4 separate regions of the Homo sapiens genome follow, and all the other regions are reported to be linked to region 2. Evidence: microRNA targets listed by miRTarBase, many of them from high-throughput screens and not tested one by one. Region 2 holds a microRNA gene; each other region holds the end of a gene's coding sequence.

The links. The annotated mature microRNA hsa-miR-4762-5p reads CCAAAUCUUGAUCAGAAGCCU and lies in region 2 at 2,295-2,315, opposite strand. An mRNA with a match to its seed (bases 2 to 7 or 8) in the 3' UTR can be bound and repressed. Matches are read on the target gene's strand: a 7mer-m8 pairs with bases 2 to 8, a 7mer-A1 pairs with bases 2 to 7 and ends in A, and an 8mer does both.
Region 1: the mRNA of ZNF514 is a reported target of hsa-miR-4762-5p. Seed matches in the 3' UTR shown: 7mer-m8 at 1,348-1,354.
Region 3: the mRNA of UGT2A2 is a reported target of hsa-miR-4762-5p. Seed matches in the 3' UTR shown: 7mer-m8 at 1,272-1,278.
Region 4: the mRNA of CNTROB is a reported target of hsa-miR-4762-5p. Seed matches in the 3' UTR shown: 7mer-m8 at 2,702-2,708.

What each region holds. Positions count from the first base shown.
Region 1 is chr2:95,146,644-95,149,827 of GRCh38, forward strand. It overlaps ZNF514 (zinc finger protein 514), which reads right to left. Exons shown (of 5, transcript NM_032788.3): 5 at 1-3,184. The coding sequence ends at 2,639. Among named protein-coding and RNA genes, the nearest start is that of ZNF514, 12 kb to the right of the region's middle.
Region 2 is chr22:45,759,663-45,762,846 of GRCh38, reverse strand. It overlaps MIR4762 (microRNA 4762), which reads right to left and starts at 2,323; the gene lies at 2,249-2,323. The region is part of intron 9 of ATXN10 (ataxin 10); the gene reads right to left. RefSeq lists a silencer at 1-38 and an enhancer at 1-196.
Region 3 is chr4:69,586,794-69,589,977 of GRCh38, reverse strand. It overlaps UGT2A2 (UDP glucuronosyltransferase family 2 member A2), which reads left to right. Exons shown (of 6, transcript NM_001105677.2): 6 at 327-1,561. The coding sequence ends at 606. It overlaps UGT2A1 (UDP glucuronosyltransferase family 2 member A1 complex locus), which reads left to right. Exons shown (of 7, transcript NM_001252275.3): 7 at 327-1,561. The coding sequence ends at 606. Among named protein-coding and RNA genes, the nearest start is that of UGT2A2, 51 kb to the left of the region's middle.
Region 4 is chr17:7,949,264-7,952,447 of GRCh38, reverse strand. CNTROB (centrobin, centriole duplication and spindle assembly protein) reads right to left here. Exons shown (of 19, transcript NM_053051.5): 19 at 2,528-3,063. The coding sequence ends at 2,938. Among named protein-coding and RNA genes, the nearest start is that of CNTROB, 19 kb to the right of the region's middle.

The sequences.
Region 1 (3,184 bases), not on the chromosome of region 2:
GTGCAAAGGATTTTTGGAGGGCAGGACACTGGGTTCAAACTGGTAAGTATGGTTAATATGGCAAGGATACATGAGAAGAGGAGACAGATTTTGGACGAAGACCAGTTACAAAATTGTGACAGATGTCTAGGTATAAAGTGATCTGGGTAGGTACAGAAAAGGGCACTGGGAAAAAAGGGAGAGACGGAGCAAGAAAATATTTGCTATTTCTGCTCCTGTAAACCTTGGCTGTCCAGGAATAAATTTCTGTGTGATCTTGACCTCAGCTGTCCAAGTACTTCCAGATCCAGATGCCTCCTGTGCATCCTACCTGCCCTGGCCAACCTTGTGGACTCTTAGACCCAGCCTGTCTGCATGGGCCCACTTTGAGCTGGTTCCCTGAATTCTGGGCTCAACTTCCTCATCTGGACTTTAAATGCTTAAAGTATTTTCCTCAGTATAAGCTAATCCTTATTAGGCAAGTATCCTTTGGTCTACGCCAGCTCCTGGTCTAGGCTTCTCCACCTGAGTTACAGAGCCAACATGGTAGGAACTTTAAAGCAGAGCCTGACAAGGTTCTGAGACCCAGTAAATGTAGGGGTAACTGTTACAGAAAATAAAAAGTGATACCAAAAATGCATAGATGGCTTGAAGTAACAAACAAAACAGGAATACTTGTTTAGCAATGGTTGGTATATGTGTAAATTTGATTTTGAAAAATGATTTTATTGAGGTATATTTACCATAAAATCTGCCCATATAAAGTGAACAATTCAATGATTTTTAGTGAAGTTACCAAATCGTTCAACCATCACCACCATCTAGTTTTAGAACATTTTCGTCACCCTAAAAAGATTCCTTGTAACATTTGCAGTTACTTTGTTTCTGAAGATCTGCCATTTCTGGACATTTCCTAAAATGGTACTAGAAAATACCTGGTCTCTGGCATCTGCCTTCTTTCACTTAGAATCACGTTTTTGAGATCTGGATTGTGCATAATACCCATATTTTAGTTGTTTTTTTTTTTTTTTTCTGAGACGGAGTCTCACTCTGTCTCCCAGGCTGGAGTGCAGTGGCGTGATCTCGGCTGACTGCAAGCTCTGCCTCCCCGATTCACGCCATTCTCCTGTCTCAGCCTTCCAAGTAGCTGGGACTACAGGCGCCCGCCACCATGCCTGGCTAATTTTTTTGTATTTTTAGGAGAGACAGGGTTTCACTGTGTTAGCCAGGATGGTCTCGAACTCCTGACCTCGTGATCTGTCCGCCTCGGCCTCCCAAAGTGCTGAGGTTACAGGCGTGAGCCACCGCGCCCAGCCTATTTTAGTAATTTTAATGTTTAAACAAGGTTTCATTTCATTTCAAAAATTCCAAATCTATTAGCATAAAGATGTAACAAAAATTGCTTTTTGCTCAATCCTAGACCACTCCATTGCCTCACAAAGAAAGGTAACATGTGCTACAGAGAAAGAAGTGCATAGAGGTGTTGTACTGCAAAGATCCAGTCTATTAATCTCCATACTACAGCTGTGAACCACAGGAAAGAGGCCCAGCCCAGTTAGGACTATAGGCCAAGGCATGTCACTTTCTGAACATCAGTTTTATTAGCTCTAAAATACGACTGGGCTAGATCATGGGTAGCTGTCTACCTTTCTCAGCCTCCATCCTCTGCACCCATGCATGACACCCTGCCCCGTCAGTAACAGCATGAGGAGGCAATGCACAAGTGTCGTTATACAAATGGCCCCACCAGGCAGAAAATCACCAGACAAGGTGATTTCTCAGCTTCTTTTCAGCTCTAGTTTTATACATCTCAAGTTGGAAAGGAACTTTCCTCACATTCATCATGTTCCCAAGGTTTCTCTTTGAGATGAATACTGAAGCTTGAACTCTACTAATGGGTTTTCCCAGTTTCACTAAATTTGAAGAGTTGCTCTAGCACAAATTCTCTAATGTACAAATTCTCTAACGTGTTTTGGTGGAACATCCACCAAAGCCCTTCCCACATTCATCACGTCACCAGAGTTTCCAGCTAGTAGGGAGAGTTCTAAGGGGTTTATAAAGCAATGAGGTTTGGCTGAAGGCTCTCCCACATTACCCACATTCACAGGTTTTTCTCAGGTATGAATTTTCTGATGCTTAATAAGGGATGAGCCCTGACTGAAGGCCTTCCTCTATTTCCTGCTTTCATAGGGCCTCTCTCTAGTATGTGTTCTTGATGCTTAGTAAAGGAAGAGATACAACTGAAGATTTTTCCATACTTACCACACTTGTAGGATTTCTCTCCAGTACAAGTTATCTGATTTTCTTAAAGAATCAGTATGTAACTGAAGGCTTGCCACACTCACTGCATTGATAAGGCTCCTCCCCAGTGTCGGCTGTCTGATGCTGAATAATATGCATCCTCTGATCAAAGCGTTCCCACATTCATTACATTCACGTGGTTTCTCACTAGTATGGATTCTCCCATGTTTGGTAAGAGAGGGGAAGCCCACCCCCTCTTGACATTGACAGGGATTCTCTTTAGTAATTATTGCCTGATGTGGAACAAGATGTGGTCTTCCCACATACATTACACCTTTAGGATCTCTCTCTGATATGAATTCTTTAAGTTCCAGTGATGTCTGCACTCCAGCTGAAAGCCCTTCTATATTCACTGAATTTATAGGGTTTTTTTTCCAGCATGACTTCTCTGATGTTTAATAAGGGATGCAGTATGAGCAAAGGCCCTTCCACACTCATTACATTTGTAGGGTTTCTCTCCAGTGTGAAATCTGTAATGTTGAGTGAGAGATGAACTCTGGCTGAAGGCTCTCCCACATTTATTACATTTGTAAGGTTTCTCTCCAGTATGAAATCTGTAATGCACAATGAGTGATGAGCTCTGGCTGAAGGTTCTCCCACATTCCCGGCATTCATAGGGCTTTTCTCCAGTATGAGTCCTCTGATGCTTAATAAGGGATGAAGTGTGACCAAAGGCTCGTCCACATTCATTACATTTGTAGGGTTTCTCTCCAGTGTGAAATCTATAGTGCAGAACAAGAGACGAACTCTGGCTGAAGGCTCTCCCACATTCACTGCATTCATAGGGCTTTTCTCCAGTATGAGTTCTTTGATGTTTAATAAGGGATGAAATATGACCAAAGGCTCTTCCACAGTCACTGCATTCATACGGCTTTTCTCCAGTGTGACATCGCTGATGGCGCCT
Region 2 (3,184 bases):
CACGCAATTACTCTCACTTGGAATTTGGAGCCAAAACACAGGGGGAAGGCATCTGTCAGTGGGGGCTCCACAGCAGGGAGGGGAGGATGTGGAGAGATGGCTGGGGCCATGTGAGGTCACCAGCCTGGAGACAGGAGTAAGAGTGAGGTGGCCTCTGGGGGACCAGGAGGCAGTCCCTGAGGCCTGGAAGCCCCTTGGTTCATGCTCTGGGAGTCTGTGCTCTCCCTGTGGCCTAAACACATACACTCTTGCCCAGCTTCCCTTCAGCCAGCTGGAGAGCGAGGAGGAAGCACCCTGGCCAGACAGGAGCATGCCTGGGAGCCTCCCAGGAAGACACAACAGGTGTGCAGACACAGGTTCGGCTAGGGTGGAGCCCACCAACACTCAGCCAGAACATGCACCGTGGAAAGAATCCTGCTGCTGTGGTCTGCTTCTGACTGAAATCAACTGCTTTATCTGCTATCTATCATAACAAAGATAAATAAAAAATGAGATGTAGTCATGAAGCGGGAGTGCCTACCCTGGGTCAGGCCCTCTGTCAAGCAATGCAAAGACAGAGAAAAATAAGCCGAGGTCCCTGCGCCTCCAGAAAGAAACGCACGCTGGTCAGGGGAAACAGACAAAGGGCAAATAAATAGAAACACAGTCTCGGAAACGCACAGGGGACAGAGACTGACTTCCTTTCTACCTGTAATGTCAAGCTTTTCACTTTTTCTGCAATTGTTACAAGTAAAATACTATCTTTTATGAGTAACTTTTGTTGGTTGGCTCACTTAAACCATAAAGTGAAGTAAAAACATATGACTAAATAGGAAGTTTTTAAAAATCAGAAAACCTGGGAGTCAGAAGGCTCTTAAAGGCGAATATGGTCCATTCACCTGCTTCAGTTAAGACCACAACTACTTCATCCCAGTCAGATGTGTTTTTTTTAAAAGCCAGATTATACTTTAATCTATTTAAGTATAGTTTCAGCCCAACTGCACTGAAATCAACCTTTTCTGTTTTAGCCAACATTTTAAAAAATCTAACACAATGGTCTAATTTTTTAAAATTTTAATTAAAGGCCCATTTAGAAAAGTAACCAACTTTTGATATTCCCTGAGGTGGAACTTAAAACAGATTTTAATGTAACTGCTAACAAGGACTAAGCAAAAACTGGGAAGAAGTGTATGATAAAAAAATAGATAAATAAAGAGCAAAGGCTTGCATAAAATGTTCCAGTCACTGGATTATAATGCTTCGTTACATTTGATTTTTACCTTTTCGAGATTATACCTATGATACTGTATTACAATTTAACCAGTTATCACCTAGTCTTCCATAAAGGTTGGTGAGAAATGAAAATTAAGTAAACACAGTATTACATAAGTGCTTAGAAAAGTTTAACTGTGAAAACAATGAACAGATTTAAAAATATTCATTTGTTCATCCCTAAAAGTTTACAGAGCACTCACTGTGGGCCCGGAACTGTGCCAGGGGCCCTGGAGAGAATGAGGAGCAAACAGACATGGAGCTTACATGCTAGGCTTGTAGTGTTTTAGATGGTAATACAGTCTCTGCTCAAAATCACCAATATAAAAACATTAAAGTCCCAGCTACTTGGGAGGCTGAGGCTGGGGAATCGCCTGAACCTGGGAGGTGGAGGTTGCAGTGAGCCGAAATCACGCCACTGCATTCCAACCTGGCGACAGAGCAAGACTCCGTCTCAAAAAAATAAAATAAAATAAAATACTGAGGTCACCCTTGAAAACATAAGCCAACAATGAAAATTCAACTTCTTTCCCAAAAGGAAAACAACAATAATGAAACAGAATAAGCTACCTGAAAGAAAGCTTCCTCTTTCATTACTCTTTATCAAATTACTGTCTCTCACATATGTCCTTTTATTTCCAGGCTTATCACCACCCTCCAACCAGGCCTCCACTGCTGTAGCAACCTTTTAACTGGCTCAGGAATCCACTCCGCACACTGGGGCTCTTATCAGTGAGGATGGGCTGGTTCGTGCTGCAGTAACAAACAATCCACAAAAATCTAAGAGGCTTAAAATGAAAGTTTCTTTCTTTCTCATGCCACTTAACAGCTGTGTGGCCTTGGGTACACTACTGAACCATTCTGGCCCTCAGTCTCCTCATCTGCAACATGGGAGAGGTATCATCATTAAATGAGGTAAGAGACGAATACTCAGAACTGTGCCTAGGACACAGGACACACTCAATAAGCAACTACTATTGCTGTAATCGTTGTTATTCTTGACACCACAAATCTTGATCAGAAGCCTTCCTAGCTTCTGATCAAGGCTTCTGATCAAGATTTGGGGTATCAGAAATAATGGGATATGACTACACCCTATCATCTAGCCATCTGTCTCCCACAGTAGATCATGAGCTACTTGAGAACAAGGACTGCCTCTGACTCCACTGTTGAACTGCAGAGGTTCACAGAAAGTGGCACATGGTAAGCACTCAGAAAGTGCTTGCTGCACTAAAGGGAACGATGTTGAATAATAATCACTGGTACGTGAATAAACCCCACATGTGCTGGACATACACAGAGTCCCATATTAATGAGGGCACACTCTCAGATGCATCTGGCCCGCAGGAAACCTGACTAAAAGCACATGATGAAGATAGGGAATGTCATCTGTAGGTGGGAAAGATGGCTTTACAGGCCCAGAACCAAGCCACAGTTGAGCTAGGCCACCAGTACATGGGCTACTGCTCCCAGGGAAGTCTAAGCAAACGAAGGAGGATGTTCCACGTTGTGGAATTAGCACAAATCTATCTCCACGTGGGGAAAGAATGTAATTCAAGATTCCCCCTGTTCCTCCTTCCTTTCTTAGGGCCATCATTCCCCTGCCCCATGCTCTCCTGGCACACTGGCACACAACAGCCAGCATGGAAAAAACTTTCTGAGGGGATAGAGGTGCTCTCTGTACCTTGACTGGGGTGATAATTACACAGGTGCAGACATCTGTCAAAACTTATCAGCCATTCATTAAAAATCTGTGTTTAGCTGTATGTAAATTAGAAAGAGAGAGAAGCAAGCGATGGACAGTGCTGACTGTTATATGGTCCCTTAGCTCATGCCGGCAGCTGAGGTGTGACCCCATCCCACCCCATCCCCTACAAAACTAGAGCTTTATGAAGGGCAGGGTGGCTGGGAGGGAGGAGCTGATGCAGCTTGG
Region 3 (3,184 bases), not on the chromosome of region 2:
TGGTATTGGAACCATCCTACAGTATAGCTCACACAGTATCAAAATTATTTTTGGAAAAATTATGCTAAACATCTATATTTACAACTGGCTTACTCTACTTTTTTATGTCTACATTTGATCATACTGTGTTAAGCATATATTTCATCCATATCTTCCTTTTTGTAACTCTTAAAATCCTATACAACTAACAAAGTTCATGCAAGAATTATATTTTCTCCACGTAACTATGGCCTTAAACTTGTAGAGCAAAAGTGTATCACATATTTATCTTCAATGAAAATAAAAACAAAAATTGTCTAATTTCTGCCTATTTATTTGTCTTCTAGTTATAAAGAGAATGCTATGAGGTTATCAAGAATTCACCATGATCAACCTGTAAAGCCCCTGGATCGAGCAGTCTTCTGGATCGAGTTTGTCATGCGCCACAAAGGAGCCAAGCACCTTCGGGTTGCAGCCCATGACCTCACCTGGTTCCAGTACCACTCTTTGGATGTAATTGGGTTCTTGCTGGTCTGTGTGACAACGGCTATATTTTTGGTCATACAATGTTGTTTGTTTTCCTGTCAAAAATTTGGTAAGATAGGAAAGAAGAAAAAAAGAGAATAGGTCAAGAAAAAGAGGAAATATATATATTTTTAAGTTTGGCAAAATCCTGAGTAGTGTAGTCCTATTAATTCCAGACAAAAGGAGTTTAACAAAAACACGTCTCCCATCCTGTTTCCAAATTTTCTATTTCTCTACCTGCGATAAGCCTACTGATAAAGCCTAGATTTTGGCATGATTATTATTAACTTGTGAGTTATAGTCTTCTATTTTTCCTTTGTCTCTCCCTGCTGACTATACCCTCTTCCTGTCACTTTTCTGACACAAGGATACTACCTAATTTTAAATATGTTCTATTCATAGTATCAAATTATTTTATCGTTAACCTTAATTAATGATTAACAATATGCTGAATCCTGGTAATGCATACAGTGTAGATGGAATTTGATAGGTGTAAGGAAGAGTCAAATTCACAAATTTCCATATACCAAACAAATCAGGGAGCCACCGTAGGAGAGTAGTGTGTTATGAGAAAGGTAATGATTTCCTTTTTTAATAAAAACAAACTCTTCTGCTTGCTCAATGTTTCAGGAGTTAGAGAATGAATTTTAAGTGTGACGTGCGTCCCTATTAAATGTCTACAAAATTTTCATTAAGCATATCTAGAAAATCACGGCATAACTTGCCTGCCTTTCTTCAACATATATTCTTATATAACCTGTAGTGGAAGATTTGGGTACTGTCTTTAATAAATCAATCAATCGACTCTTTTATTTCAAGGAGAAAGTTCTATGTTATATGTTGAAGGTGAACAGATCATATTTAGAGGATATAACAATTAGAAATCTAGAAAATAATTATCATTTTTATAAAATTTTTAGTCAACTGTACAAATAATTACATAAAACATCAATTAATTATGCTTAAAAATCACTAATGTTCATAATATATAATCACTATTTGTAATCAAAAGTTTAATTTTATGCCAAAAAATAAAAAATGCTTACTTGGAATTTGATATCATTGCATTATTTTTGTCTTTATCTTCCACAAATTTTAATTTATCAATTAATTGTTATGCTATGTATATAAAAGACTAAGAGCTTCACCAAGGATATGGCATAATAAATGTTTATCAACGGAAAGCATAGTTGAAGGCAAATACTTTTACTTGATTCAGCCTTGCATTAATTTAATAAATATATTAAAGATTTTGCTTTCTTTACCCTTTATAAATTTAATGACATTTCTAGCTAAAGTGTTAATTTCAATATTTGAAATTGAGAAGATAAATTACATTCGTTGCCTTAGTGATATTTTTGAAATTCTTCTTTCTTTCACTGTTTCTTTTTTCAATTTTATGTTATTTTAAGTTCCAGGATACATGTGCAGGTTTGTTACATAGTAAACGTGTGCCATGGTGGTTTGCTGCACCTATCTGCCCATCACCTAGGTATTAAGCTTAGCATGCATTAGCTATAGGCATATAGCTAGGCATATACTCAATTTTAATAGTTTGTAAAATCTAGAAATATAGCCAAACATAGAGTCAATTGATATTTGACAAGAATGCAAAACTATACAATGGAGAAAAAACAATATCTTTAACAAATACCAGTGGACAAACTGATTATCAGTATTCAAAAGAATAAAATTGAACCCCTTACCTCAAGTCATATATAAAAATGGACTCAAAATAGATTAAAAAAAAACTAAATGTAAGATCAAGAACTATAAAACTCTCAGCAGGAAGAATATGGGTATAGCTTTCTTTCTAACCCTGAATTTTGCAAGGTTTTTAGATATGACACCAAAAGCAGAAGCAATCAAATTAAAATTGATAAATTGGACTTCACTGAAATCAAAATTTTTGTACATCCAAACACCAGCACTAAAGTCTGAAGAGAAACCAGACTTTGGAGGATATAGTTGCAAATTACATACATGGTAAATGACTTGTGTAAGAAATTTATAAAGAAAGCTTACAGCTCAATGATAAAAAAAAAATGACCCAATCCAAAAATGTGCATAAGATCTGAACAGGCATTTCTCTAAGGAATATGTAAATGTCCAATGAGGACAAATGAGCAAATGTAATGTCCAATAAGAACAAATGAAAAAATGCTCTGCATCATTAAGTTCAACATTATTACAGGAAAATTTAAGTAAAAACCACAATGAGATACCACTTCACCCTCACTAACATGGCTATTATCAAAAAGATAAGTAATTAAAAGTGTTGGCAAGGATATGGAGAATTTGGAATCTTCATACTTTGCTTGTGTGTATCAAAAATTATTCAGGCACTTTGAAACAATCTGCCAGTTTATTAAAGTTTAAACAGAGTTACAATATGACCCAGCAATTCTACCTCTAGTAATATACCAGACACAAATGGCAATAGGTCTATACAAAATTAATACATGCATGTTGATAACATCTTAACCAAAACTGGAGAGAAAACTACAGTTCATCACTGATAAATGAATAAACAATATGTTTTAGAATATTATTTGGCAATAAAAATAATAAAGTCTTGATGCATGCTATACCATTAATGAGACTTTTTAAAACATTATACTAAGTATAGATGCCAAACAACAAAGATCCTTCATATAACAATATGTCCCTTCATATGAAA
Region 4 (3,184 bases), not on the chromosome of region 2:
CCACCCACCTCGGCCTCCCAAAGTGCTGGGATTACAGGCATGAGCCACCGAACCCAGCCAATATATACAGTTTTAAAAATCAACGTTGTTTTACTCACCTCATAACATGGTTAAGTCAGCATGATGCCTTTTTTGGATTGCGTTTAAAGAGCTGTTTCAGGGAATATTCTCCAGGCTGTGCTTCACGTCAAGAAAAATGTAGGGCATACTGACTGATGGCGGTAGGCGGGAATCCAGGAGATAATGAGGAGAATGAACTGGGTGTTCACTTTACCAGCTATTAAAAACCGTAGCAAACCATCACCTACCAATGATGATAGTGTGCCATGAATCTGAGAGTTTGGTCAAACCAGTGTTACATATTTAAGGTAAAAAATAGAAAAGTAAACATTTCCATACGTGGGTAAACAGACAGGGCTGGAAAAGCCCTCAAGCCTGGGGCTGCTCCTGCGCCAGTGTGCCTCCAGTTTCTCCGCTGGTGCATGCCAGAGAGTGGTCCTGTGCGGGGCTGAGGATCAAGCCGTTCTGACACAGCTGAGCAGGGCAACCCACATGTCTGGTCATTCATCTTCACCTTTTCTTCCTTTGCCCGTCCCCTGGGGGCTAGAAAGTTACTTAGGTGGAAGTAAAATGCAAACATTAGTACAAAACACTCTATGAATCCACATCCTATCATGTGTATAACTCAGGGTCAGATAGAAGGGCCCTGCCTTCTTCTCAGAATCTGGTAAACTCTGTCCCTCAAACACCCACCTCTTACCTGCCAACACCACTTTCAGAATTGTACCTGCCATCACCACTACCCTGCACCATGTGCCAGAGCTGAGAGCTGCGTGTGAGTCTCAAGGTAGGATATCCTCTTCCAGTTTCAGTTTGACTGAGTGCTTTTCAGTGTTTGTACCATGAATTTGGGGCCTTTTTAAATTTCATGTCTACGTTATTTTCTTCCCTAGTATTGTTTTTCTTTGTCCATTTTAGTGAGCATTTAAATGGAAGTTTTATAAACATGGTTTAGTTTTCTTGCCAGCAGTCTATTTTTTTTCAATTTCAACTCTCTTTTTTTTTTTTTTTCAGACAGAGCCTTGCTCTGTCACCCAGTCTGGAGTGCAGTGGCACAATCTTGGCTTACTGCAACCTCTGCCTCTCAAGTTCAAGTGATTCTCCTTCCTCAGCCTCCCAAGTAGCTGGGATTACAGGTGCCCACTACCATGCCCGGCTAATGTTTTGTATTTTTTAATAGAGACAGTGTTTCACCATGTTGGCCGGGCTGGTCTCGAACTCTTGGCCTCAAGTGATCTGTCTGCCTCGGCCTTCCAAAGTGCTGGGATTACAGTGTGAGCCACCACACCCAGCCTCAATTTCAACTTTTATTTTAGATGCAGGGCATACATGTGCAGGTTTGTTACGTGGGTATATTGCACCTAGGTAGTGAGCATAGTACCATTAGGTAGTGTTTCAACCCGCGTCCCCCTCCCTCCCTCCCTCCCTGCTCTGGGAGTCTGCAGTATCTGTTGTTCCCAAGTCTATGTTCACATGTGCTCAATGTTTACTCCCACTTAGGAGAACATGTAGTATGAGGTTTTCTGTTCCTGCACTAACGCGCTTAATTAAGATTATAGCCTTCAGCTCCATCCATGTTGCTACAAAGGACATTATTTCATTCTTTTTCATGGCTGTGTGGTATTCCATGGTGTATATGTACATTTTCTTTATCCAATCCACCCCTGATGGGCATCTAGGTTGATTCTATGTCTTTGCTATTAAGAACAGTGTGGTAATGAACATATAAATGCATGTATCTTGTTGGAATAATGACCTATTTTCCTTTGGGTATATATCCAGTGATGTGATCGCTGGGTGAAATGGTAACTCTTAAGTTTTATGAGAAATCTCTAAACTGCTTTCCATAGTGGCGGAACTTACATTCCCACTGACAGCTATATAAGCATTCCCTTTTCTCTGCAGCCTCGCCAGCATGTTGTTTTTTGACTTTTTAATAATAGTCATTCTGATAGGTATGAGATGGTATCTCATTGTGGGGTTTTGCATTAAATTGATTTGCATTTCTCTGATGATTATTAACGAGCATTTTTTCAAATGTTTGTTGGCTGCTTGCATGTCTTCTTTTGCGAAGTGTCTGTTCAGGTCCTCTGCCCATTTTTTAATGGAGGTATTTGTTTTTTGTTTGTTGATTTAAGTTCCTAATAGATTCTGGATGTTAGACCTTTGTCAAATGCATAGTTTGAGAATATTTTCTCCCATTCTGTAGGCTGTCTGTTTACTCTGTCGACAGTCTCTTTTGCTGTGCAGAAACTCTTTTGTTTAATTAGGACCCAGCACTCTAGTCTTTTACACGTTTTAAAGCTGTAAGCGTGAAGACTATAGCAACAATATGTCTGCTGGCTGGAGTAGAATCTGCCAATCTGAATCCTACAAATGCAACCTGAAAGAATTATTTTCCCTTAGAAAACTTTCTCCCCAACAACCAAATTTTAACTCAAACTCTTTATACAATAACTTACTCTTATTAAAGTTTGGGTCTGTTCTGATTATTAAAGTAACATATACTTGTTTTAGAAAATTTGGAAAATACAGAAACGTATTAAAAAACTAAGAATCACCCATAATTCCACTACCACCCAGAGTTCATTGCTCTGCAGGTTTTAGCTTTGTCCACTGAATCTTAGCCGCCCCAACTTTCCAAATCTTGTCATAGACCGTCTTCCAAAGCATTCATGTCTTTTCCCACAGGAAATGACATATAAACATGTAACATATAAAAAAAGTACTCAACCAAATGTGGTTTCTTTACGAAGTGATTCCCTACAAAACCTCTATTTTCCAAATTCCTATGAGCCAGAGACTCTGATACAGACTAATGAGCATTTATTAAAATAACAACAATGAGAGAACAAAGAGGAGAGAGGGTAGGGGGGCTCATCTCCAGACTCCCCCCCGGCTCCTCATGCTACTCGGGGCAGGGTGCCCACTTTTCTTCCGTGCGGGAGGTTTTTCAGTCTTGGGGGCTGTAGCAAGGCGGCGAGGGACAGCCTGGGAGGGAATCTGAGAGTTGAGGGAAGAGAGAGGAAGAAATCAGCGTCAGATCCTCTCAATTCCCCACCCCACTGAGGAAATGCACGTGGAGAGGGCCAGATGAGTCTGCAGGGAGGAAAGGCCATGCTAC